Linked DNA regions of Homo sapiens. The protein of the gene in region 1 purifies or fractionates together with the protein of each later gene. This does not show direct contact. Each region holds a gene or a part of one and is shown in the gene's direction. Other genes may lie near its edges. The genes, in order: TRAIP, ZNF212, RNF20, VANGL2, RFC5, MCMBP and MCM6.

Region 1 (3,500 bases):
CTATCTTGTCTAATTTAAAGTCCATTTTATCTGCTATTAGTATAGCCACTTCAGCTGTCTTTTGGTGACTGCATGGTATATCTTTTTTCATCTGTTTTATTTTATTTTATTTTATTATTGTTTTTAGAGACAAGGTCTCGCTATGTTAGCCAGGCTGGTCTCAAACTCCTGGCCTAAAGCAATCCTCCTGCCTTGGCCTTCCAAAGTGCTGGGAATACAGGTGTGAGCCACCACACTCGGCCCTTATCCAACTTCTAGCTTCCGTTGTAGCTATTGAAGTCAGATTTTAGTTTATCAGTTACTCCTTTAAGCATACTTTGGAACTTTATCCTCAGACTCTCATTACCTTTAGAATTTTCTCTGATTTTGGCTTTCTGCAGTTTTGGTATAGTGTATCCAATATGAATTTCTTTTTACCTTTTTCTTTTCTTTTTTTTTTTTTTGAGACAGAGTCTTGCTCTGTTGCCCAGGCTGGAGCACAGTGGGACAATCTCAACTCACTGCAACCTCCACCTCCCTGGTTCAAGCAATTCTCCTGCCTCAGCCTCCCGAGTAGCTGGGACTAAAGGCACGTGTCATCATGCCCGGCTAAATTTTGTACTTGTAGCAGAGACAGGGTTTCACCATGTTGGCCAGGCTGGTCTCGAACTCCTGACCTCAGGTGATCTTCCCACCTTGGTCTCCCAAAGTGCCGGGATTACAGCCATGAGCCATTGTGCCTGGCCGAATTTCTTTTTACAAATTCTGCTCGGGATTCATTAGATTTCTTTAACGTGTAGAGCAATTTCTTTCTTTCTTTCTTTTTTTTTTGAGACGGAGTCTCGCTGTGTCACCCAGGCTGGAGTGCAGTGGCACGATCTTGGCTCACTGCAAGCTCTGCCTCCCGGGTTCACGCCATTCTCCTGCCTCAGCCTCCCGAGTAGCTGGGACTACAGGCGCCTGCCACCATGCCCAGCTAATTTTTTGTATTTTTAGTAGAGATGGGGTTTCACTGTGTTAGTCAGGATGGTCTTGATCTCCTGACCTCATGATCTGCCTGCCTCGGCCTCCCAAAGTGCTGGGATTACAGGCGTGAGCCACCGCGCCTGGCCGTGTGGAGCAATTTCTTTAATCAGTTCTGGAAAATTATCAGCCATTATCTCTTCATATATTGCCTCTATTCCATTAACTTTTTTATCCTGTGTTATTATTTATTTTTGAGGTAGAGTCTCGCTCTGTCACCCAGGCTGGAGTGCAATGGTCCGATCTCGGCTCACTGCAACCTCCACCTCCTGGGTTCAAGCAATTCTCCTGCGTCAACCTCCCGAGTAGCTGGGATTACAGGCGCTCGCCACCGTGCCTGGCTAATTTTTGTATTTTTAGTAGAGACGGGGTTTCACCATGTTGGCCAGGCTGGTCTTGAACTCCTGACCTCGTGATCTGCCCGCCTCGGCCTCCCAAAGTGCTGGGATTACAGGCGTGAGCCACTGCACCTGGCCTACCTAAAGTCTTTGTGGGCATTTCTTCTGGTTTGTTTTCATAGTGCTTTTTTTTCTTGTGTACCTGTTTACTTAAAAAAATGTTTTTTTGGCTGGGCGCGGTGGCTCACAACTGTAATCCCAGCACTTTGGGAGGCCGAGGCTGGTGGATCACGAGGTCAGGAGATCGAGACCATCCTGGCTAACATGGTGAAACCCCGTCTTTACTAAAAATACAAAAAAATTAGCCGGGCATGGTGGCGGGCGCCTCTAGTCCCAGCTACTTGGAAGGCTGAGGCAGGAGAATCGCTTGAACTCAGGAGGTGGAGGTTGCAGTGAGCCGAGATTGCACCACTGCACTCCCGCCTGGGTGACAGAGCGAGACTCAGTCTTAAAAAAAAAAAAAAGTGTTTTTTTGGCTAGGCATGATGGCTCACCCCTTTAATCCCAGCACTTTGGGAGGTGGCTGGATTGCTTGAGCCCAGGGGTCCAAGACCAGTCTGGGCAACACAGTGACACCCCATCTCTACAAAAAAGTGAAAAAAATATAAATTACCTGGGCATGATGGCCTGTGCCTGCAGTCCCAACTACTTGCAAGGCTGAGGCAGGAGGATCGCTTGAGCCTGGGAGGTTGAGGCTGCAGTGACTCATGATTGTGCTGCTGCACTCCAGCCTGGATGACAGAGTGAGACCCCATTTCAAAAAAAGAACATTTTAAAATTGAAGTATAATATAGTTCAGAAAAGTACACATATTCTAAGTATATGGCTTACAGAATGTTTACAAATTGAACATATCTATGCAGCCAGAATTCAGATCAAGAAACAGGGTATGGCTGGGCGTGTTGATTCACGCCTGTGATCCCAGCACTTTGGGAGGCTGAGGTAGGCAGATTGCTTGAGCCCAGAAGTTCTAGAACAGCCTGAGCAACATGATGAAATCTCTACTAAAAACACAGAAAATTAGCCGAGCATAGTGGCATGTGCCTGTGGTCCCAGCTACCCAGGATGCTGAGGTGATCATCACCTGAGCCTGGGAGGTAGAGTCAGCTGTGAGCCATGATTGCTTTACTGCATTCCAGCCTGGGTGACAGAGTGAGACCCTGTCTCGAAAGTCCCCCCACCAAAAAAAAAAAAGAAAACAGGAAAACGCAGGCTATTGGCCGGGCATGGTGGCTCATGCCTGTAATCCCAGCATTTTGGGAGTCCGAGGCGGGTGGATCAGGAGTTTGAGAGCAGCCTGGCCAACATGGTGAAACCCTGTCTCTACTAAAAAAATATAAAAATGAGCTGGGCATGGTGGCGTGCACCCGTAACCCCAGCTACTCGGGAGGCTGAGGCAGGAGAATTGCTTGAACCTGGGAGGTGGAGGTTGCAGTGAGCCGAGATCGTGCCACTGAACTCCAGCCTGGCTGACAGAGCAAGACTCTGTCTCAAAAAAAAAAAAAAAAAAAAAATGCAGACTATTATCAGCTCTAGAAACCTTCTAGAAACCTCCTTATATGCTCTTCCAACCCCTACCAACACCTCCCTCCACCTCCCCATATTAAGATAGCTACTGTCTTGACTTTGAGAGCATAGATGAATTTTGCCTACTTTTTTTTTTTTTGAGACAGAGTCTCACTATGTCCCTCACGCTGGAGTGCAGTGGCGTGATCTCGGCTCACTGCAACCTCCACCTCCCAGGTTCAAACGATTCTTCTGCCTTAGTCTCCCAAGTAGCTGGGATTACAGGCGTGCGCCACCACACCCGGCTAATTTTTCTATTTTTAGTAGAGACGGGGTTTCACCATGTTGGTCAGGCTGGTCTCAAACTTCTGACCTGATGATCCACCCGCCTCGACCTCCCAAAGTGCTGGGATTACAGACGTGAGCCACTGGGCCTGGCCTGCCTACTTTTAAACTGTGTAAATAGAATCATACAAAATATAACTTTTTGTATCTGGCTTCTCTTCCTCAGTGTTATGTTTTTGTGATTTATTCATAATATTGTTCTTAGCTGTAGACTCATTTATTCTTGCTGTGTAGTATTCCACTGCGCCT
Region 2 (3,228 bases), on another chromosome or scaffold:
GCTGACTTGGTGACCTCATCTGGCATCTGCTTGTTCTGGACTCCTTTATGATTGTCGTTAGTTCAGCTGTTACATATGCCTCAACTCCTACCACCCTGTGGGGTCTTTAAGACTAACGGCCACATCAATCATTATTCTTCATGCCCTACAGAATAGAGTACCGTACGAGGCGGTAGTCAAAACCTGCTGGAGATTGAGCGTAGGTATGTCAGAGCTTCAGGAGGGAAGGCAGTGCAGGAAAAGCACTTGTCAGTAGGTAATTTGGGAGGTTATGGAGGAAGAACAGAGCTGGACATGAATTCTTAAGCTGTAGGTTTAGTTTGTCTTTAATCATTCAAATTTGTTATTTTAACACTCTTAATTGAGTATAGTTGTTACAGTGTATTCTGTCATTTTTCACAGGGATTAAATATAAATTTGTAGACAAGCTTGGAGAACTATCATTTACAGTATTGTTTTATAAGAGTAATACATTTATATTTCCAATCAACATTGGAAAAACTGTACATGAATATAGTTTTATAGAAGTCTTGGAACCTAGCCAGTGTCATCCTCCTCCACGTTATCCTAATTCACTTATTCCTGGGGTGCTTCTGAAATTCACAGATGTTTGTTTGGTCCTGAAGAAACCAAAGGTACTAGAATGTGATCTTTTTTGTTGGTCTTCTTCCACTTTGCAGCAGGTGGGGTCATGATCAAACAGGAGCTACAGTATACACAGGAAGGCCCTGCGGATCTTCCTGGAGAGTTCTCATGCATTGCTGAAGAGCAGGCTTTCCTGAGCCCAGAGCAGACCGAACTCTGGGGTGGTCAGGGCAGTTCTGTCCTCTTGGAAACAGGTCCTGGGGACTCTACTCTAGAGGAGCCTGTTGGTAGTAGAGTTCCTAGCAGCAGCAGAACTGTGGGCTGCCCGAAGCAGAAATCTCATAGGCAGGTACAGCTGGACCAGGAATGTGGGCAGGGCCTGAAGCTGAAAAAGGACACTTCCCGCCCCTACGAATGTTCTGAGTGTGAGATCACCTTCCGCTATAAGCAGCAGCTGGCCACACATCTGCGCAGCCACTCTGGGTGGGGGTCTTGTACACCTGAGGAGCCAGAGGAGAGCCTTAGGCCCAGGCCACGGCTGAAACCACAGACCAAAAAGGCCAAGCTGCATCAGTGTGATGTGTGCCTGAGGAGCTTCAGCTGCAAGGTGAGCCTGGTGACCCATCAGCGTTGCCACCTGCAGGAGGGGCCCAGTGCCGGCCAGCATGTCCAAGAGAGGTTCTCACCCAACAGCCTGGTTGCCCTGCCTGGCCACATCCCTTGGAGGAAAAGCCGGAGTTCCCTCATCTGTGGTTACTGTGGCAAGAGCTTCAGTCACCCATCTGACTTGGTGCGGCACCAGCGCATCCACACGGGTGAGCGGCCCTACAGCTGCACTGAGTGTGAGAAGAGCTTTGTCCAGAAGCAGCACCTCCTGCAGCACCAGAAGATCCACCAGCGGGAGCGGGGTGGGCTGGCCCTGGAGCCCGGAAGGCCCAATGGCCTGCTTTAAGGGTGCAGCCCCTCGCCCGTCTGGGGGATGGAGGGGGGTGGCATTGGTTCCCCCGAAGAGACACTGCAGTCAGGGACTGAGTTCTTCCTGAGGGCAGTTGTTTGTGATTGCCTTCCCTTGTCCCAGTACCAAGCCAAGCCCAAAGGCTGTCCTGAAAACCCTGTGGAAGAAGAGTCCAGGCCAGGTCTTCATCCTGCTGCCAAGTTTGCTGTTTCTTGGCACCTTCAGGTCTCTGGTTTTCTCATTCATGCCAATGCTTGTGGGCTGGGGTTGGCGTTCTGACCCCACAGGGACTGGTGGCTGGTTCCAGGGCTCGTCCCGGCATTTCATGTCTTCCCACGGGGTTGAGTCGGGCCATAGGGGTGAGCAGCTGCCTGGAAGAGTTCTGGGAAGTATAACCCTCCATTTTTTCTTGTTTTATAATCTCTTTGTTTAATAATAAGTAGAAGAAATAATTTAAATGAACTGCTTAGCCCTGCTCTGAAGAACCTTTTTTGGAATTAGATTTTAGTTGATTTTTTAAAGAATACAGCCCAACACTTGTTTTTTACATTTTAAGAGTTGTAGAAGTTGTTCCTAACTTGGGGACTGGACCTACCCTCTAGGAGGGAGTTGTTAATGGGGCTCTTTTAGCCCACTGATGCTTACTTAGGCCGGAGAGCAGGGGACACGGTGCTAGGTTCCCTCGTGCAGTGCCTGGTGCTCTCAAATTGTCTCAAAAGGACCAAGAGGAAAAGAGTCGGAGGGGTAGACCCTGCAGCCCTGTTGAGAAGAAAGATTCCAGTGAAGTTGCTGATGGTATGGCTGTGGTCTGGGACTTGCGGTGTCTCGGCATACCCCTCTCCTCTTCCCACCTCCTCCTGGCTATGTTCTGCAGCCTCCCAGAGTAGAAAACTACTTTGTTACTTAAGGTTGTTCACCTTGTACCAGTGGTTATTTGAGTTTGTTCCTATTACACCAATCCTTACTTGAGGTGGTTCGGATTACAGTTTCCAAATGCATTCTGGGATTGCCTATTCCAGAGAGGGTACAGAAAAAGCACACAGATGGCTTGTCTCAGGAGTGTTGAATGTGTGCCCCGCTGCTGTCTGGGGGGATGGGAGTGGGCTCTGGGGTCATATGTGAACATCCCCTTGGATGATTTGCGGTTGCTTAGAATAAAACTTGCTACTAGCAAAAGAAAAAAAAAAAGTTCATACTGGATGTTTTTCTCCGTTTGTCAAGAACACTCTCCTGGGGCCAAGGTGGAGGAGAGGCACCTGACCTGGAGTGATGACAGGGAAGGACTGATGGCACAGCCTAACCTGCACTTTTACTTAAACCTAGGACAGAAGACAAGATGTGGCATGGGTGAAAATTTTCAGGGGACTGTACTTATGATGGTGGAGAGCTGGAGACAGTCTGGGTGATGGCTATTGGGAGGTAGAAAGAGTAGGTGAAATGTGGGTACCCCAGGGAGTGCCAGGTAGCTGTTACGAGCATTGGCTTAGATATATGCGTAGCCATCTGGATCCATCTTAAACACAATGCCGAGGGGAAAAGGTAAGAAATTGAGATCTATAATGTAACACCATTTATATAAATTAAAAATGCATGTACACAAAACATTTTGTAAGAACACTTGGGACCAAAGGAGACCCGTTAAAAGACATTACAGTTTTCCACGGGGAGAGCGAGCAAATAAGTAGAAG
Region 3 (3,500 bases), on another chromosome or scaffold:
AACCGATACTGGAGTCAGGTAGCTAACTTGTTTATTTGTTCAGATTTTTATTTGACCAATTTAGTTCTCCTTACTGTTCTCTTCATTTCCAAAGTTGTGTCCTTTGTTTCTTCATAATTGTACCTACCCTTCTCCAGTTTGATGAAAACATCCGTATCATCCTTAAACGTTATGATCTGGAGCAGGGCTTGGGAGACCTACTCACAGAACGAAAAGCCCTTGTTGTGCCTGAACCAGAACCAGACTCTGATAGCAATCAGGAGCGTAAAGATGACCGAGAGAGAGGCAAGTGTTCGTGATGGATTCTATCACTGCATGCTATCTGGGTTTTTAAAGTAGAGCTCTGCTTTGAGGCTTTCCATTTGAGGGAAAAAAAATGGATTTTGTTATTTCCAGTTTATAATTTTGGGGGGCTTCTTTTTTTCCCCCTGTGTCCTCAGGGGAAGGGCAAGAGCCAGCTTTCTCTTTCCTTGCTACTTTGGCCAGCAGTTCCAGTGAAGAGATGGAGTCTCAGCTGCAGGAACGTGTGGAGTCTTCCCGCCGAGCCGTGTCCCAGATTGTGACTGTTTATGATAAATTGCAAGAAAAAGTGGAGCTCTTATCCCGGAAGCTAAACAGTGGAGGTGAGGCAAGACCCTGGAGGCCGGGAGTAGTGGAGGAGGAATAAGAATTCATTTTTGCATGCTAATTTGTAGTTTGCAAGCTTACATATTTATTTTTATTTATTTATTATTTACTTTTTAAGAGATAAGGTTTCACTGTGTCACCCAGGCTGGAACACAGTGGCACCATCATAGCCCATTGAATCCTCGAACTCAAGCAATCTTTCTGCCTCAGCTTCCGAATAGCTAGGACTATAGGCACGTACTACCACACCTGGCTAATATTTTAACCTTTTTGTAGAGAGGAAGTCTTGCTATGTTGCCCAGGCTGGTCTCAAACTTGGCCTCAAGAGATCCTCTCTTCTGGCCTCCCAAAGTGTTAGGATTACAGGCATGAGCCACTGTGCCTGGACTATATATTTTAATTAAATTTTTAGAAATTCTAACCTTCAGTGTTACTGGTAATGTCTTCATTATGGCATATTAATCTTTTATCAGTGCTTCTCATTTTGAGCCACATGACAGTCCTTTAATAAGCTGAGGAAAGAGTTTATCAGCTCTATACTGATATACTCTATTAATGACAGTTTTGTAAATAGCAGAATTAACTTTATTATTTAATAAACAGCTCTAATATCTGGATCTGTTTATCGTGTATGTAGGCTATTGATTTATAGTGATAATACTTTATTTTAAATAACAACTATATTATTTAATTATTAGTTACAGAATTTTGACTTGAAAAAGTTAATTTTTACTTAACTTATTTTTCATTATCGCTAATGTTTTTAAAAAGAGTTGGTGCAGGTTTTAGAGTTGACAGATGATCTGTATGGTTAAAAGGATTATTAGAAAATATTCTATGGATGAAAGAGTATTTGAAATAAAATAATTATTTGGGATAATTGTGTTACTCAGAGTTAATGCAAAAATTTAAATTTGTACAGTAAAGTATTTGTGTAGCTAGGTTACATCTTTAGTCATTTGTGGCATAAATACCTTGCTCAAATGCAAAAAAAATGCCTTGATTTCATGTTTTCAATAATAATCATGGTCTAGTTGTAATATCTTAATTTCCCTGCTTATCATTAAGATGTTTAACCTTTCATTTCTGAAGGAAATAAGTTGAATGTAATGGAGGTTGAACCATTGGATGAGCATATAAGAATTGTATTATTCTGTAATTTTGCTTTTAAGGGTAATTGGGCTAAGTTGTCAACAGAATTAAGCAGCTTGTAGAAGGCCTGTGAAAATTTGGTCACGGGTTTCTTTTGCTTTTCCATTAGATTATGCATTTCTGTATTTTATTATAAGGAAAACAGATACTTGTTTAAAAATATACAAGTCAGAAATACAAATAAGTAGACTACAAAAGTTTCCCCATTCTCATTTCTCAAAAGATAACCATTCTAAACAATGTGTTTTATGTCCTCTCAGACTTTTGTACTTTTGTATTAATATCTTACATCTACTTGCATGTCCCCAGCTAAACTGTGTCTTGGTTCAGTAGTTTGGCTCACTCTTCTTTGTTTCTCTAGTTTCTAGCACTGCATCTGGCATCTAGCAGATGTTTAGTCAATGGGGAATGAATGGATGTGAACCTCCCTGTCACCTAATATAAAATAATGGTGCTTTGTGTGTGCACATATGCTTCTTTCTCCTTGGGCTCTAATTGAATAGTTAGAAGGTATTGTTAAATTTTAGTAATATGGTAATTAATATGCCATGTGCATAGACTATGTTAAACTTGATTTCATAAATGAATATCAAGTGAAACAATTGTTTTATTTAAAAAGGGAATAAAATGAGTAGTATATCAAACGACTTTAAAATTACTATTTAATGGCATGCATTTTAAGGTCGGGTTTAAGTTAAAAAGTAGAAACATTACAAATAGCCATGCCATTATTTGTAACACAAAAGGCAATTGCCATTGGTAAGCTGAACTTTCTAAGAGATAAAGATGTATAAAGTATGAATTATAGCATCAGTTGTAACTTGTTTGAAAGTTCATCCCCCTGACTTAGACTGAAAATTGACATTCCTCAAATTCCTAGGACATCATCAATACAGTAGTTTCTACTTCCCCATTCCCTGTGGAATTTCTACCACGCCATTCCTCAATAACACTATACAGTCTTTTATATTTAGGGTAATTCATTATTTGGAGGTTTGGAGTTGTGTTGTGTTTTACAAAATCCCCTATGATATGATAGGCCTTCTAGAGTAAGGTAAGGCCTTCTAGAGCAAGTATAGGCCTTATAGAGTAAGGTCTATAAATTCATCTAACCCTGCCAGAGCGGCACTGTCTAACCTGCCACGGCAGTACTGTCTAACCGTGCCAGGGCGGCACTGTCTAACCCTTCCAGGGCGGCACTGTCTAACCCTTCCAGGGCGGCACTGTCTAACCCTGCCAGGGCGGCACTGTCTAACCTGCCAGAGCGGCACTGTCTAACCTGCCAGAGCGGCACTGTCTAACTCTGCCAGGGCGGCACTGTCTAACCTGCCAAGGCAGCACTGTCTAACCCTGCCAGGGTGGCACTGTCTAACCCTGCCACTGCAGTACTGTCCAACCCTGCCAGAGCGGAACTGTCTAACCTGCCAGGGCGGCACTGTCTAACCTGCCAGAGCGGCACTGTCTAACCCTGCCAGGGCGGCACTGTCTAACCTGCCAGGGCAGTACTGTCTGTTTGTTTGGTCTTTGATTCAAAAGAATTGCATTTATGGGCTTGTTTATAAATTCACTAAACATTTATTGAATTTTATTGTATTCTAGCCCTGTCCTCAGTGCTTAGGATATTGAGAGGACTAAAATTCAGTCTCTACTTCTTAACTCAGGTTATGAATCAGAATAACCTTGGGAGTTTTCTGAGCATATTCTTATTTTTGGCTTTGCCC
Region 4 (3,500 bases), on another chromosome or scaffold:
CATCTGGTTTCCAGGTCCTTCCAGTTAATGGGGAGGGAACTTGACTAACAGAAGCTTTGGCAGGGAAAAGGAAGAGATCTGATCCCCTCTGAGTTTTAGGGAACTCCAGTCTTCTCCTTCCCTCAAGTGTTCATCACATTGTGAGGCCAGAGAAAGGAGTCAGAGTTGGTTGGAATTAGTACTTAACAGTGGTGTGATCTGGGCAAGTAATAAACCCCATTCCCCAGCCTCTTAGGTGTCTTAAGGCACATCCTCCAAGCCTAGACTGAGCCCTTCCACAAGGAATCCCTGGTCCCCCACCAAGTGGCTTTCTTCCCTGGTTTGCTTTTAAATTCTGGCTTTGCCACTGTCTAATTCCGTGACATCAGACAAAACTGGTAACTTTTTGAAGCCTCACCTGTAAAATGGAATTAATAATAGGCCCTACTTCTTGGGGTTATGAGGATTAAATGAAATAATAGAGAAAGCACGTTGCACAGTTCCTGGCACATAGTAAATGTTAGCTGGATGGTTCGGATTCTGAGGGATAATCATCATTAAGGGAGAGAGGTCGGAGTCGGGATAGGAGAACTAGGCTTTGGTTCTGATCTTCCTTTGGCCGACCACATTAGGCACTCTCTCCTATCTGCCAGGCACAGTGTGAAGCACAGGGGATGGAGGGGCAAATAAGATGTTTTCCCAGGGGAGACATGTGAAAACATGTTGATTCACTGCAGCCCAGTGAGTGCTGTGTGGAGGTGTGTTCAGGAGGCCACTGGAGCATAGAGGAAGAGTGCTTGGCCCTGGGGTGAGGTGCCAGGGAAGGTTCCTGCAGGAGATGCCCTGTTAGCTGGATTTTAAAAAAATTAAGGTGAAATTCACATAATAGGAAATAAACCATTTTAAAGTGAACAGTGGCATTTAGTACATTCACAGTGCTGTGCAACAACCACCTCTGTCTAGTCCCCAAACATTTGCACCATCCCGAAACAAAACCCATACCCATTACACAATTGTCGCCATTTCCCCTTACCCCAGCCCCTGGCAACCACCAATTTGCATCCTGTCTCTATGGATGTACCTATTCTGGATATTTCATACAAATGGAATGATAGAATGCATGACCTTTTGAATCTGGCTTCCTTCGCTTAACATAATGTTTTCCAGGTTAATCCACACGGTAGCATGTAGCATGTATTAGTACTTCATTCCCTTTTATAGCTGAATATTATTCCCTTGTGTGGACAGACTTTACCTGGTTAAAGGATGAGTTAGGCCAACAGGAAGGGTCTTAGGATGGCACTCCTGGTGGAGGCTGAGCGTGAGCAAGAAGGCACACAGGGTATTTGGTAGTCCTGTACCTTGCAGTATGAAGTGGGGATTTGGCCTCAGTTTCTCTGTCTATAAAACAAAGTTAATCATCCCTTTCCTGCTTGTGCTATGGGCTTGGTAGAGTTGGAGGTATTAGGGGAGAAGAGAGGCTAGGGTATTATTGCCTCTTCTCAGGGTCTGGGCTGGGGATGGGACTTTTAAAACTTGCTCTTTCCTCCTCTTTCCTGGGCAGCTCACTCCTGTATGCATCAACCCTCATCCTTGTGGGGAGCCATCTCCCTGTTCACTTGACATCAGCTTCCCCTCTCTCTGAATTGACCTGAAATTTTCCCTTTTACCTTCCACAGGTGGGTAACCCTGTGCATGATGAGATTTTGGCAGCAGAGGTGAAGGAAAGGCCTGGGACTAAGTCCTACTCACATTCTACCCTACGGCGGCCCTCCCCTTCTTTATCCTGTCTCTTGGTGATGTGGCTTGGGCAGCCCTCTCTCACCTTCTCTGTTGTAGTCTGGATAGAACTGTGGTGGGCCAGGGAGAATGTTTGCATTCCTTGTCTCTACCCTGCTTGGTACAGAGTAGGAGGCAGAGGCCCTTTATGGTGGGGCCCTTTGGAAATGAGGTTTTGCTGTGCTTTGTCGGATGCCCCTGGCAAGATTGGTAATTATAGACATAACAGCTGGGAACTGGTTTGAGAGAAGCAGGCTTGGAATCAGCAGACCTGAGGATATCCTGGTAATCAGGGTGGGGCAGGGAGAGGGGAGAGTGGGATGAAGCTGGGGGCTGGGTAGGGTGGGAGGCTTGGGGCCTCCTTCCCCTGCCGCTCCACACACAGCTGGGCTTAGAGCCTAGAGGAGAGTGGGAGGTGATTGGAACCCAGGTCTGCTTTACTGTAAGTGAGGAAGGAGGAAGGAGAGGAGGAAAGGTGGGGGATCCAAGGGCCTCTGAAGAAAGAAGCAGAGAGGAGGAAGAGGCATGTTGGTTGCTCTCTCAGGCAGTACCTGGATGTGGTCTAATTTAGAACAGGGACAACCCTGCACCTAGAGGTGGTTCCATCTTATTTTGGGGTGTTTCTCCTTACAGTGAGGTTATGGGAGCAGGAAGTGGAGGGGATTCGCTGTGGACCCACTAAAGGAGAAAAGGTGGGAACTAACATTTTTTTAAGCATCTATTGTGTGCCAGAATCTGTAATATTCTGCATACATTATTTTGCTGAAAACTCTTAACCTTCTGAAGTAGGCACTATTATTGCCATTTTATAGATAAGGAAACTGAAGTTTGGAAAAGGGGAGCGACTCACCTGAGATTACATAGCTCGTAAAAGGCTGTGCCAGGTCTGACTTCAGTGCTCTTCCTTTTCCCAAAGTCTCTTCACCTTCCCCTACTGTCATTCCAGTTCGGTCTGATTGCTCATTATTGCCTTTAATCTTGCACTTGAGTAATTCCCCTGTTTTCTGAAAAGCAAACATGAGTCCAGTGTCAGCCTGAGGAGTAGAGAAGCCTACCCTTGAGGGTGGGAGTCAGAGAACGATCTCATCTCCAGGAGGAGCACCTTGGTGTCATAAGCCTGGGGCGGGGCCAGCATCTGGGCAGAAACCTCTCCTGGGGTGGGTCTCTTTCTCCTTGCTGGGCCATGATTTTGGATGGGGGTTGGGGTAAAGGAGTGACTGTAGGCTCCGGCCACCATGGCCCGTGGGGTCTTGTTTGTGAATGGGAGGAGCCTGGTCCTTATTGTCTGTAGGGTTTTCTCACAGCCCCTAACAATGTCCTTCAGACTCCTGTTTTCACCAGAGTGTTCTTGGCTCCCTCAGCCTGGTCAGAGAGAGAGGGTGTGTTTGTTTGTGGGTCTAGGGAGGGGGTTCTGGTTTTTTTTTTTTTGAAACCGTTTCGCTCGTTGACTAGGCTGGAGTGCAATGGCGCGATCTTGGCTCACTACAACCTCTGCCTCCCTGGTTCGAGTGATTCTCCTGCCTCAGCCTCCCGAATAGCTGGGATTACAGGCATGCACCACCATGCCTGGCTAATTTTGCATTTTTTGGAGAGGCGGGGTTTCACCATGTTGGTCAGGCTGGTCTGGAACTCCTGACCTCAGGTGATCTACCTGCCTCGGCCTCCCTAAGTGCTGGGATCACAGGCGTGAGCCACCACGCCCGGCCCAGGGGGTCTGGTTTTTTAGGGTAAGTAGGGTTTAG
Region 5 (3,016 bases), on another chromosome or scaffold:
GGCTGTGGCATCCTCTGATGAGGTGACTCTTCCGGTATTGAATATGTGGGTTCCCACTGCCTTGTGCCCATAGAACTTTGCTGCTCACCTGCATTGCTGCCTTGGCAATTTCTTCTTGGCTCCCTGCAGCTTGGTGGCAGCTGTGACAGCCACTGTGATCTCCCCTTTCCCCCTCTGTCTACACAGAGCACCAATATGGCCTTTGGGAAGGTGACAGAGGAGACTGTCTACACCTGCACCGGGCACCCGCTCAAGTCAGACATTGCCAACATCCTGGACTGGATGTTGAATCAAGATTTCACCACAGCCTACAGAAGTATCCTTTCTCATGACCTCCTGGCCACCGAGACCTGAAGGTGGCCCCAGGAGTTCAGGTTGCAGCCAGCACCCACACCTTGCTGGCAAAGGATGACTGGCTGCAGGCGACTCTGGTCAGCTTGTTGTGGGAGTGAGATGTCTGTAGGTGGAGTGGGTACTTGTCTTTAGCACTCCAGAGTTCTTCTTGGAGGGCTCTGACCTTCAAGTCAGGGTAAGGCTTGAAGCAGCTTCACTCACAGATGGGAGAAAAGCTTAGGCCTTGGCATTGAAGATGCAGGAATTTTCAAGTGGTCATGATAGTGATAGCTCTTGTGCTGTGAAATGAAAGGCTAGGAATGGTGACACAAAGCCTTTTTGGAAATGCATTTGGGGCTGGGTGTGGTGGCTCATGCCTATAATCCCAGCACTTTTGGAGGCTGAGGCGGTAGATCACTTGAGGTCAGGAGTTCAAGACCAGCCTGGCCAACATGGCGAAACCCCGTCTCTACTAAAAATACAAAAATTAGCCGGGCGTGGTGGTGGGTGCCTGTAGTTCCAGCTACTCGGGAGGCTGAGGCATGAGAATTGCTTGAACCCGGGAGGCAGAGGTTGCAGTGAGCCGAGGTCATGCCACTGTACTCTAGCCTGGGTGACAGAGGGAGATTCCATCTTAAAAAAAAAAAAAAAGAAAGAAAGAAAAAGAAAACGCAGTTGGCTTTATTCTCTACTAGAAGGAGTTACAACTCTATCTTTCAGAAAGCCCTTACTGAAGATGAAACAAAGAAAAATAAAGAATTGGAGTCCAACACGTGCAGCTTCAAGTTGAAAGAGAAACAGTTGTGTTGGGATTAAAAGCCTTACTTTAAAAAGTCTCTTGCCCGGGTTTGGATTCAAAATTCTCTGCAGTATGTTTGTTCTGGAACTTGTTCCCTTTGCCTTAACTGCTCCTCTAGATATTACAGAGTTGAAAACTCTGAAGGGGTTGGCACTGCATGATATCCTGACAGAGATACACTTGTTTGTGCATAGAGGTAACTTACATTATCCCCCAGCTGAGAAGCTGTGGAGAAGGTAGCCTGCTTTGGGGTTAAGGATGGTTAGGACAGGAGGCTTCATTCTTGAAGCAAAGAAACTAATGAATTGTAAATCAGACCCTTCTTGTTAGCAGTTCTGTCTTGCCACTGTTTAAAATTTTGTTCCAGAGCTGGGTACGGTGGCTCAAGCCTGTAATCCTAGCACTTTGGGAGGCCAAAGCAGGCAGATCACCTGAGGTCAGGAGTTGAAGACCAGCCTGGGCAACATGGTGAAACCCCGTCTCTACTAAAAATACAAAAAATTAGCCTGGCATGGTGGCGCACGCCTGTAATCCCAGCTACGTGGGAGGCTGAGGTGGGAGAATCATTTGAACCTGGGAGGTGGAGGTTGCAGTGAGCCAAGATTTGCCACTGCACTCCAGCCTGGGCGACAGAGCTAGAGTTTGTCTCAAAAAAAAAAACAAAACAAAACACAAAAAACGTGTTCCATAAACCCTCTTTTAATATCTAGAACTGCTGGGGAAAGTGAAAACTCCTGGAGGCTAACTTTATTTCCTCTAGGGGTTTATATTTTATAGCAGTAAGTAGTATATATTAATTCACATTTCTAAAAAAAAAAAAAAAGTCTGTCTATCTATCTGTCTATCTAGATATATATTCCCAGAAAAGAAAGAGAAGATATGTAAACCATGTAAACCAAAGCAGGCTTAAGGAAAACATCTTAAGTTCCACACTTGCCTGTACCTTCTACACAGAGAATTGGTTCTCAACCTTGGCAGCAGATAGGGGCACTCCAGACAAATTAAGTCAGCTTCTCGGAGGACAACCAGGCATCCGTATTCTCTAAGCTCCCCAGGTGACTTGTGTAGGCTTTCGGAGAAGCTCTTCCTTCCACAGTGGCCAACTGCAAGATGGAGACTTAACCGGGTCAATGAATGTTGGTTCTGCCCAGGCCTTCACAGGCCTCTTCCTGGCTGGCCCATGCCATGCCTTCTGCCCAAGGTATGGTTGGCTCAGGCCCAGCTCTGCACCTTGATTGTGGAAGCTGAGCATAAACCAACTTTAAAAAATCAGTTGTTTGTGCTTGGTTTTTAAATGGGGACAGGATCGGTATAGTGGCTGACGCCTGTAATCCCAACACTTTGGGAAGTCAAAATGGGTGGATCACTTGAGCCCAGGAGTTTGAGACCAGCCTGGGCAACACGGTGAAACCGCATCTCTACAAAAAGTACAAAACAGCCAGGCAAGGTGGCGCACACCTGTAGCCCCAGTTACTCAAGGGTCTTGAGGTGGAAGATCCCTCAAGCCCAAGAGGTCAAGGCTGCAGTGAGTCATGATCACGCCATGCCATGGCACTCCAGCCTGGGCAAGACAGTGAGACCCCGTCTCAAAATAAAGTAAAATATAAAATAAAAACAGCAAGTGGGAACTCAGCATTCAAGTTAACTTGTAGAGCTACCCAGCTGCTAAGAGCAGTGTGATCTTTGGTGCTCTTAGGATCACTTTGGTATCTGCTCATTTTCCTTTTTGTCTACCCTATAAAGCACAAAATCGAGTGGGTAAAAAGTATGAAACCAGCACTGTTTCTACTTTCTTAGAGGTCTGGTATCTAGTGAGCAGGCTGAGGCCTCAGGACTAGTTCAGTGTTAAGGATTTCATGTTGAAACTCATTTGTCCTCTGTGGG
Region 6 (3,500 bases), on another chromosome or scaffold:
ACCCCTATCATTTTCATCACTCCAAAAAGAAACCCCATACCTTTAGTAGTCTCTCCCATTTCTTCTGTCTTCCATCTCTGGCAACAACTATACTTCTGCCCATGGATTTACCTATTCTGGACGTTTCGTGTAGGTGGAATTATACAACATGTGGCCTTTGAGGTCTGGCTTCTTTTCATTTACCATGATATTTTCATGGTTCATCCATGTCATAGTATGCATCAGTACTGCATTCCTTTTTTTTTTTTTTTTAAGAGATAGAGCCTGGCTCTGTCGTCCAGGCTGGAATGCTGTGTGGCAAGATCATGGTTCACCGCAGCCTTGAACTTCCAGTCTCAAGTGATCCTGCAGCCTCAGCTTCCTGAGTAGCTGGGACTACAGGCATGTATTACCTGTATTACCACACCCAGCTAATTTTTAAATCATTTTTTGTAGATTTGGGGTCTCACTATGTTGCCCAGGCTACACTCAAACTCCTGGCCTCAAGTGACCCTCCCGCCTCGGCCTCCCAAAGTGCTGGGATTACAGATGTGAGCCACTGTACCCAGTCTGCATTCCTTTTTATGGCTGAAAATAACATTCCATTGTATGTCTATACTGCATTTTGTTTATCCATATATTTGCTGATGGACACTTAGGTTATTTCCTGGCTGTTATAAATACTGCTACTATAAACATTCATGTACAAGTTTTTGTGTGAATGTAAGCTTTTTGGTTCTTTCCCAGATATACCTAGGGATGGAATTGCAAGGTCATATGATAATTTTATATTTAACTTTTTGAGGAATTGCCAAACTTTTCCACAGTGGCTGCACCATTTTACTTCCCAGGTTCAAGCAATTCTCCTGCCTCAGCCTCCCAAGTAGCTGGGATTACAGGTACCACCAGCAAGCCCAGCTAACTTTTGTATTTTTAGTAGAGATGAGGTTTCACCATGTTGGCCAGGCTGGTCTCAAACTACTGATCTCAGGTAATCTGCCTGCCTTGGCCTCCCTAAGTGCTGGGATTACGGGCATAAGCCACTACGCCTGGCCTAAAATGTTTTTAAGAAAGGTTGTGTGAGAAGAGAACAAGAGGCACATTATATAATGTTAAAACAGTCAGTTCACCAAGAAGACCTAACTATATATGCACCAAGCAACAGAGCTTCAAAATGTATGATGCAAAAACCAGCAGAAATAAAAGAAGAAATAGGCAAATCTGCAATTGTAGTTAGATATTTTACTACTCCTCTCTCAGTACTTGACAGAATAGTGGGTAGAAAATCAAAAAGAATACTGAACAACACAAAACTACACAACACTGTCAACCAAGTAGATCTAATTGACATTTGTTTACCTAATGACAGCAGAATACACATTCTTTTCAAGTGCACATGTAAATTCACCAAGATAAACCACATTCTGGGTCATAAACCAAATAGTAAACTTTATATATAAGAAGAACACTTCTAAACAATCCATGGATTAAAAACTCTCAAAGGAAAGCTTTGAATATTGTGAACTAAACCAAAATGAAAACTCAACATACCAAAATTTGTGGGATACAGCCAAAGACATGCTTAGATGCATTAGCTGCCTTAATTAGAAGAGAAGGTCTCAAGTGAATAATTTAAGCTTCCACCTATGAAACTAGAAATGAAGAGCAAAATAAACCCAAATTAAACAGAAGAAAGAAATAATAGAGAACAAAAATCCATGAAATAGAAAACAGAAAAAAAAGAAAAAATCAGTGAAACTCAAAGCTCTTTAAAAAAAAAATCAATAAAATTGTAAACCTCTAGCCATACTGGCAAAGGAAAAAAAAAAAGGAAAACAAATTACCAATAGTAGAAAAGAAAAAAAGGAAGACAAATTACCAATATTAGAAAAGAAAGAGGAGATAACCACCGTAGACTGTACAGGCATGAAAAGGATAATACAAACAGCTCTACAGATAGAAATTCATCAACTTAGATGAAATGGACCAGTTCCTCAAAAACCACTGTATTAGCTTTCTATTTCTCCTGTAATAAATTACAAATGTAGTGACTTTAAAACAAAAGGTTTTTATTTACAGTCCTGGAGACAGAAGTCTGACATGGGTCTTACTGGGATAAAATCAAATTGTTGACAGGACTTGCATTCCATTGTGGAGGCTTTAGGAGAGAATCTGTTCCTTTTCTTTTCCTGCATCTAGAGTCTGCCCACATTTCTTGGCTTGTGGCCCCCTTCCGTTTTCAAAGACAACAAGTCGAGTTGTTCTCACATCTTACTCTAACTTCCTCTTTTGCCACATCCTTCCACATTTAAGGACCGTTGTGATTACATTGAACCCACCCAGATTGTTTTTTTTTTTAAGTTCAACTGATTATTAACCTTAATTCCATCTGCTACCTTAATTCCTATGTAACATATCTTTACAAGTTCTGGGGATTAGAACATCAGTATCTTGGTTGGGTGGGAGGGGGTCATTATTCTGCTGATCACAGCCACAAACTATCCAAACTCACCCAAGTAGAATAATATTTCACCTTTTACGTCTGGCTTATCTCACTTAGCATAATGTTTTCAAGGTTTATTCCTGTGTCTTCGTTGCTTTTTTTTTTTTTTTTTTTTTTTTTTTTTTTTTTTTTTGAGTCTGAGCCTCACTCTGTCTCCCAGGCTGGAGTGCAGTGGTGCGATCTCAGCTCACTGAAACCTCCGCCTCCTGGGTTCAAGCAATTCTCCTGTCTCACCCTCCCGAGTAGCTGGGATTACAGGCGTGTGCCACCACGCCCGGCTAATTTTTGTATTTTTAGTAGAGACGGGGGTTTGCCATGTTGGCCAGGCTGGTCTTGAACTCCTGACAGGTGATCCGCCCGCCTCGGCCTCCCAAAGTGCTGGGATTACAGGCGTGAGCCACCCCGCCTGGCCCTCGCTGCATTTTAATAAAGATACAAAAGCTAATTCAAATGGAAAAAGGATATTCTTTTCATCAAAGACATGAACAATTTAACATTTACATGGAAAAATAAAATCCTCAACCTTTACCTCATATTTTATATAAAATTAACTCAAAATGGATCATACATCTGAGTATAAAACCTGAAACTATAAAACTTTTAGAAGAAAACAGATCTTTGTGACCTGGGGTTTGGCAATGAGTTCTTAAGACATGACACCGAAGGCACAGTGCGTAAAACAAAAATTTGATAAATTGGGCTTCATCAAAATTAAAAACCTTTGTTCTGTAAAAAAAAATTCTATTAGGAGCATGAAAAGACAAGCTATACACTGGGAGAATATATTTGAAAATCCGGTATCAGAAAAAGAACTTGAATCCAGAATATATAAGAAAACACAGCAGTAATTTAAAAACTCAATTTTAAAAGGGGCAAAAGATTTAAGTAGGCTTAAATAGACATTTCACCAGATAGGATACAAGGATGGCAAATATCCCCCTGAGAAGAGTTCAGCATTGTTAGCCATTAGGGAAATGCAAATTTAAGCCATGATATTGCATATTAGAACAGCTAAAAT
Region 7 (3,500 bases), on another chromosome or scaffold:
TGTAGATTTACTTGGATTCTGATATGTTAGTTTAATTATTAGAGTTATGTGTACTTAAATATTTAATAATGCACTTCAGATGCCCACAGAACTATAAAATGACAGTTTGTAGGAACTAATATTTTAGGCTGTACTTTTTAAATCATTCAGCATTGAGGTTCTACATTTTATTGGGTACAGTGCACAGCTCTTTGTTACAGTGGAACTTTAAATATTATCTAAATAAAAGTAGCCTTCCATTTTGTGAGTGTTTGGAGGGCTTGGATTTTTATTTATTTATTTTTTAAAGACAAAGTCTTACTCTGTCACCCAGGCAGTGCCACAGTCATAGCTCACTGCAGCCTCAATCTCCTGGGTTCCAGTGATCCTCCTGCCTCAGCCTCCCAAGTAGCTGAGACTACAGCTCTGTACCACCATGCCTGGTTAATTTTTTCATCCTTTTGTAGCAACGGCAACAAGTTCAAGACCCGTGTTGGTCTTGAACTCTTGGCCTCAAACCACCTTACCACCTCAGCCTCCTGAATAGCTAAGATTGTAGGCCTGCACCATCACACCTGGTTTGGTTTGGTTTGGTTTGGTTTGGTTCACTTTTTTTCCCTTCACAAGAGAGACATATTTAATTACCAGATAATTGAGTTGTCTGATTTTCATACATTTATGTTTGTTCATGATTCATTAAAGTAGCTTTAGTAGCAGATCAAGTTATAAACCTTTAAAAGATCAATTTATAAACCTTTAAAACATTCAAGATTTTTTTAAAACTGTTTTCTTTAGTTTTGTTTTGTTTTGTGACGGAGTCTCACTCTGTTGCCCAGACTGGACTGCAGTGGCACAATCTTGGCTCACTGCAACCTCCGCCTCCTAGGTTCAAGTGATTCTTCTGCCTCAGCCTCCTGAGTAGCTGGGATTATAGGCGTGTGCCACCACGCCTGGCTAATTTTGTGTATTTTTACTAGAGACAGGGTTTCACCATGTTGGCCAGGCTGGTCTCAAACACCTGACCTCAGTTGATCCACCGACCTCAGCCTCCCAAAGTGTTGGGATTACAGGTGTGAGCCACCGCGCCCGGCTTGTTTTGTTTTTGAGACAGGGTCCCACTCTTTCCTGCAGTGGCGTGATCATGGCTCACTGCAGCCTCAGCCTCCTGGGCTAACACAATCCTCCCACCTCAGCCTCCCGAGTAGCTGGGACCACACATGTACACCATTGTGTCTGGCTGACTTTTGAGTTTTTTGTAGAAACAGGATTTTGCCATGTTGCCCAGGCTGGCTGCAAACTCCTGAGCTCAACCAGTCTGCCCACCTCAGCTTCCCAAAGTGTTGGGATTATAGGCATGTGCCACCATACCTGGCCAAAAAGCCTTTTCTTTTTCTTTTTCTTTTTCTTTTTCTCTTTTTTTTTTTTTTTTTTTTTTGAGATGGAGTCTCGCTCTGTTACCCAGGCTGGAGTGCAGTGCTGCCGTCTCACCTCACTGCAACCTCCGCCTCTCAGGTTCAAGTAATTCTCCTGCCTCAGCCTCCTGAGTAGCTGGGATCACAGGCGTGTGCCACCATGCCCGGCTAATTTTTGTATTTTTAGTAGAGACGGGGTTTCACTTTATTGGCCAGGCTGGTCTCAAACTCCTGACCTCAGGTGATCCCGTCTTGGCCTCCCAACGTGCTGAGGTTACAGGCGTGAGCCACCGGGCCCAGCCTGTTTTATTTTAGTTATTTATTTTGAGACAGGGTCTGGCTGTATTGCCCAGGCTGGAGTGCAGTGGCATGATCTCAGTTCACTGCAACCTCTGCCTCCTGGGCTCAAGCCAGCCTCCCACCTCAGCCTCCTGAGCAGCTGGAACTACAGGTGCAGGCCCCCATGCCCAGCTAACTTTTGTATTTTTTGTAGAGACCGAGTTTTGCCGTGTTGCCTGGACTGGTCTTGAACTCCTGAGCTCAAGCTATCCACCAGCCTTGGCCTCTCAAAGTGCTAGGATTACAGGCATGAGCCACTGTGTTCCGCCCAGACAACTTCTTAATTAGAAATAATTTCAAGCTTACAGAAAAGTTGCAAGAAATGGAATAGTGCATAGAACACCCATATACCCTTTACGTGATTCACATAATAACATTTTACCCTGTTTGCTTTATTGCTTACTGTCTGTATATATCTGCACACTTTTTTCCTGAACCATTTGAGAGCAAGTTGCATATTTTGGGGTCTTTTTTTTTTTTCCAGTATTCTGGGATGAATATCTTCAAAATTTAGTGGCTAAGAGCACAGTCTCTGAAGCTAGACTATTCAAATCCTGGCTCCACTACTTAACTGTGACCTTGGATAAATTACTTAACCTTCCTAGGCCTCAATTTGCCCATGTATAAAATGGGGATAATATCATTTACCTAATAAAATTTTTGTGAGGATTGCATAAGTTAATTCTTCTAAGACCTGCCTAAGAGAACAGTGTCTCATACACTGAGGGCCCTATAAATGTTAGTTCTGCTATTTTTGTTGTTTTGTTTTTGAGATAAGGCTTACTCTGTTGCCCAGGCTGGAGTGCAGTGGTGCAATCATGGCTTCACTGCCCCTTCAACCTCCTGGGCTCAAGTGATCCTCCTGCCTCAGCCACCTGAGTAGCTGGGATTACACATGTGCACCACCATGCCCAGCTAGTTTTTTTGTAGAGACAGGGAGGGTCTCAGTTTGTCGCCCTGACTGGTCTCAAACTCTTGACCTCAAGCTCTTCTCTCACATCAGTCTCCCAAAGTGTTGGGATTACAAGTGTGAGCCACTGCACTTTACCCTACTATTGTTTTTAAAGCCAATCAATTCCTTCAGGTATAGTTTTAGAGTGGGGCAATGGTATACATTTAAACGTTTGATTTTAAATCCACCTGTTCCCAAACTTTCATCAGAAACTTGGTACCCATTAATACTTCTTTAAGTGGTATATTAGAGCTTGTTTTTGGCGATAAATCATTTCTTATTGCCTGGGATAGTCTGGAGAAGATATTGCTGTGACTATCAAAGTGATTTTTTTGTTTTGAATTAGGTTACAGATTATGCCATTGCCAGGCGCATAGTAGATTTGCATTCAAGAATTGAGGAATCAATTGATCGTGTCTATTCCCTCGATGATATCAGAAGATATCTTCTCTTTGCAAGACAGTTTAAACCCAAGGTAACCTACCCTTTTGTACTGGGATAAGGTATAATGGGTATATTAAAGTGGAATTTAAGTAAGTGTGTTATATGGAAATTAACTGAACCTGTCATCTACCTTAGTTCCTAAATTTTACAACTTTTTTTTTTTTTCTGGAACAGCAATTTGTTTTTTCAGAGAGGGCTGAGAAAGGGAACTGTAAAAAAAATTCTGAATAATTCCATTATTTGTTTGGTGGTAATAAAAAGATTTGTATGGGAGAAGAGTTTTGGATAACTGGATAATCTAGAACATTCTTTTATTTCAAACATTACTAAGAACGTTAAAATTGTTTATGCGCCTAAATCAATAGTTGAATCTT

The links.
Region 2: the proteins of TRAIP (region 1) and ZNF212 purify together in Homo sapiens (affinity purification with western blotting, with the first as the bait; one study listed by BioGRID). This does not show direct contact.
Region 3: the proteins of TRAIP (region 1) and RNF20 purify together in Homo sapiens (affinity purification with western blotting; one study listed by BioGRID). This does not show direct contact.
Region 4: the proteins of TRAIP (region 1) and VANGL2 purify together in Homo sapiens (affinity purification with western blotting, with the first as the bait; one study listed by BioGRID). This does not show direct contact.
Region 5: the proteins of TRAIP (region 1) and RFC5 purify together in Homo sapiens (affinity purification with mass spectrometry, with the first as the bait; one large-scale study listed by BioGRID). This does not show direct contact.
Region 6: the proteins of TRAIP (region 1) and MCMBP purify together in Homo sapiens (affinity purification with mass spectrometry, with the first as the bait; one large-scale study listed by BioGRID). This does not show direct contact.
Region 7: the proteins of TRAIP (region 1) and MCM6 purify together in Homo sapiens (affinity purification with mass spectrometry, with the first as the bait; one large-scale study listed by BioGRID). This does not show direct contact.

What each region holds. Positions count from the first base shown.
Region 1 is NC_000003.12:49,850,065-49,853,564, reverse strand, and holds part of TRAIP (E3 ubiquitin-protein ligase TRAIP), read left to right. Parts: intron 1-3,500. UniProt on the Homo sapiens protein: E3 ubiquitin ligase required to protect genome stability in response to replication stress.
Region 2 is NC_000007.14:149,252,879-149,256,106, forward strand, and holds the end of ZNF212 (zinc finger protein 212), read left to right. Parts: intron 1-680; coding exon 681-1,537; 3' UTR 1,538-2,728; downstream 2,729-3,228.
Region 3 is NC_000009.12:101,540,353-101,543,852, forward strand, and holds part of RNF20 (E3 ubiquitin-protein ligase BRE1A), read left to right. Parts: coding exon 1-18; intron 19-137; coding exon 138-285; intron 286-440; coding exon 441-623; intron 624-3,500. UniProt on the Homo sapiens protein: Component of the RNF20/40 E3 ubiquitin-protein ligase complex that mediates monoubiquitination of 'Lys-120' of histone H2B (H2BK120ub1).
Region 4 is NC_000001.11:160,403,564-160,407,063, forward strand, and holds part of VANGL2 (vang-like protein 2), read left to right. Parts: intron 1-340; exon of another isoform or gene 341-829; intron 830-2,564; exon of another isoform or gene 2,565-2,762; intron 2,763-3,500. UniProt on the Homo sapiens protein: Involved in the control of early morphogenesis and patterning of both axial midline structures and the development of neural plate. Plays a role in the regulation of planar cell polarity, particularly in the orientation of stereociliary bundles in the cochlea.
Region 5 is NC_000012.12:118,026,703-118,029,718, forward strand, and holds part of RFC5 (replication factor C subunit 5), read left to right. Parts: intron 1-186; coding exon 187-316; intron 317-1,250; coding exon 1,251-1,328; intron 1,329-3,016. UniProt on the Homo sapiens protein: Subunit of the replication factor C (RFC) complex which acts during elongation of primed DNA templates by DNA polymerases delta and epsilon, and is necessary for ATP-dependent loading of proliferating cell nuclear antigen (PCNA) onto primed DNA.
Region 6 is NC_000010.11:119,862,844-119,866,343, reverse strand, and holds part of MCMBP (mini-chromosome maintenance complex-binding protein), read left to right. Parts: intron 1-3,500. UniProt on the Homo sapiens protein: Associated component of the MCM complex that acts as a regulator of DNA replication.
Region 7 is NC_000002.12:135,852,444-135,855,943, reverse strand, and holds part of MCM6 (DNA replication licensing factor MCM6), read left to right. Parts: intron 1-3,028; coding exon 3,029-3,157; intron 3,158-3,500. UniProt on the Homo sapiens protein: Acts as a component of the MCM2-7 complex (MCM complex) which is the replicative helicase essential for 'once per cell cycle' DNA replication initiation and elongation in eukaryotic cells.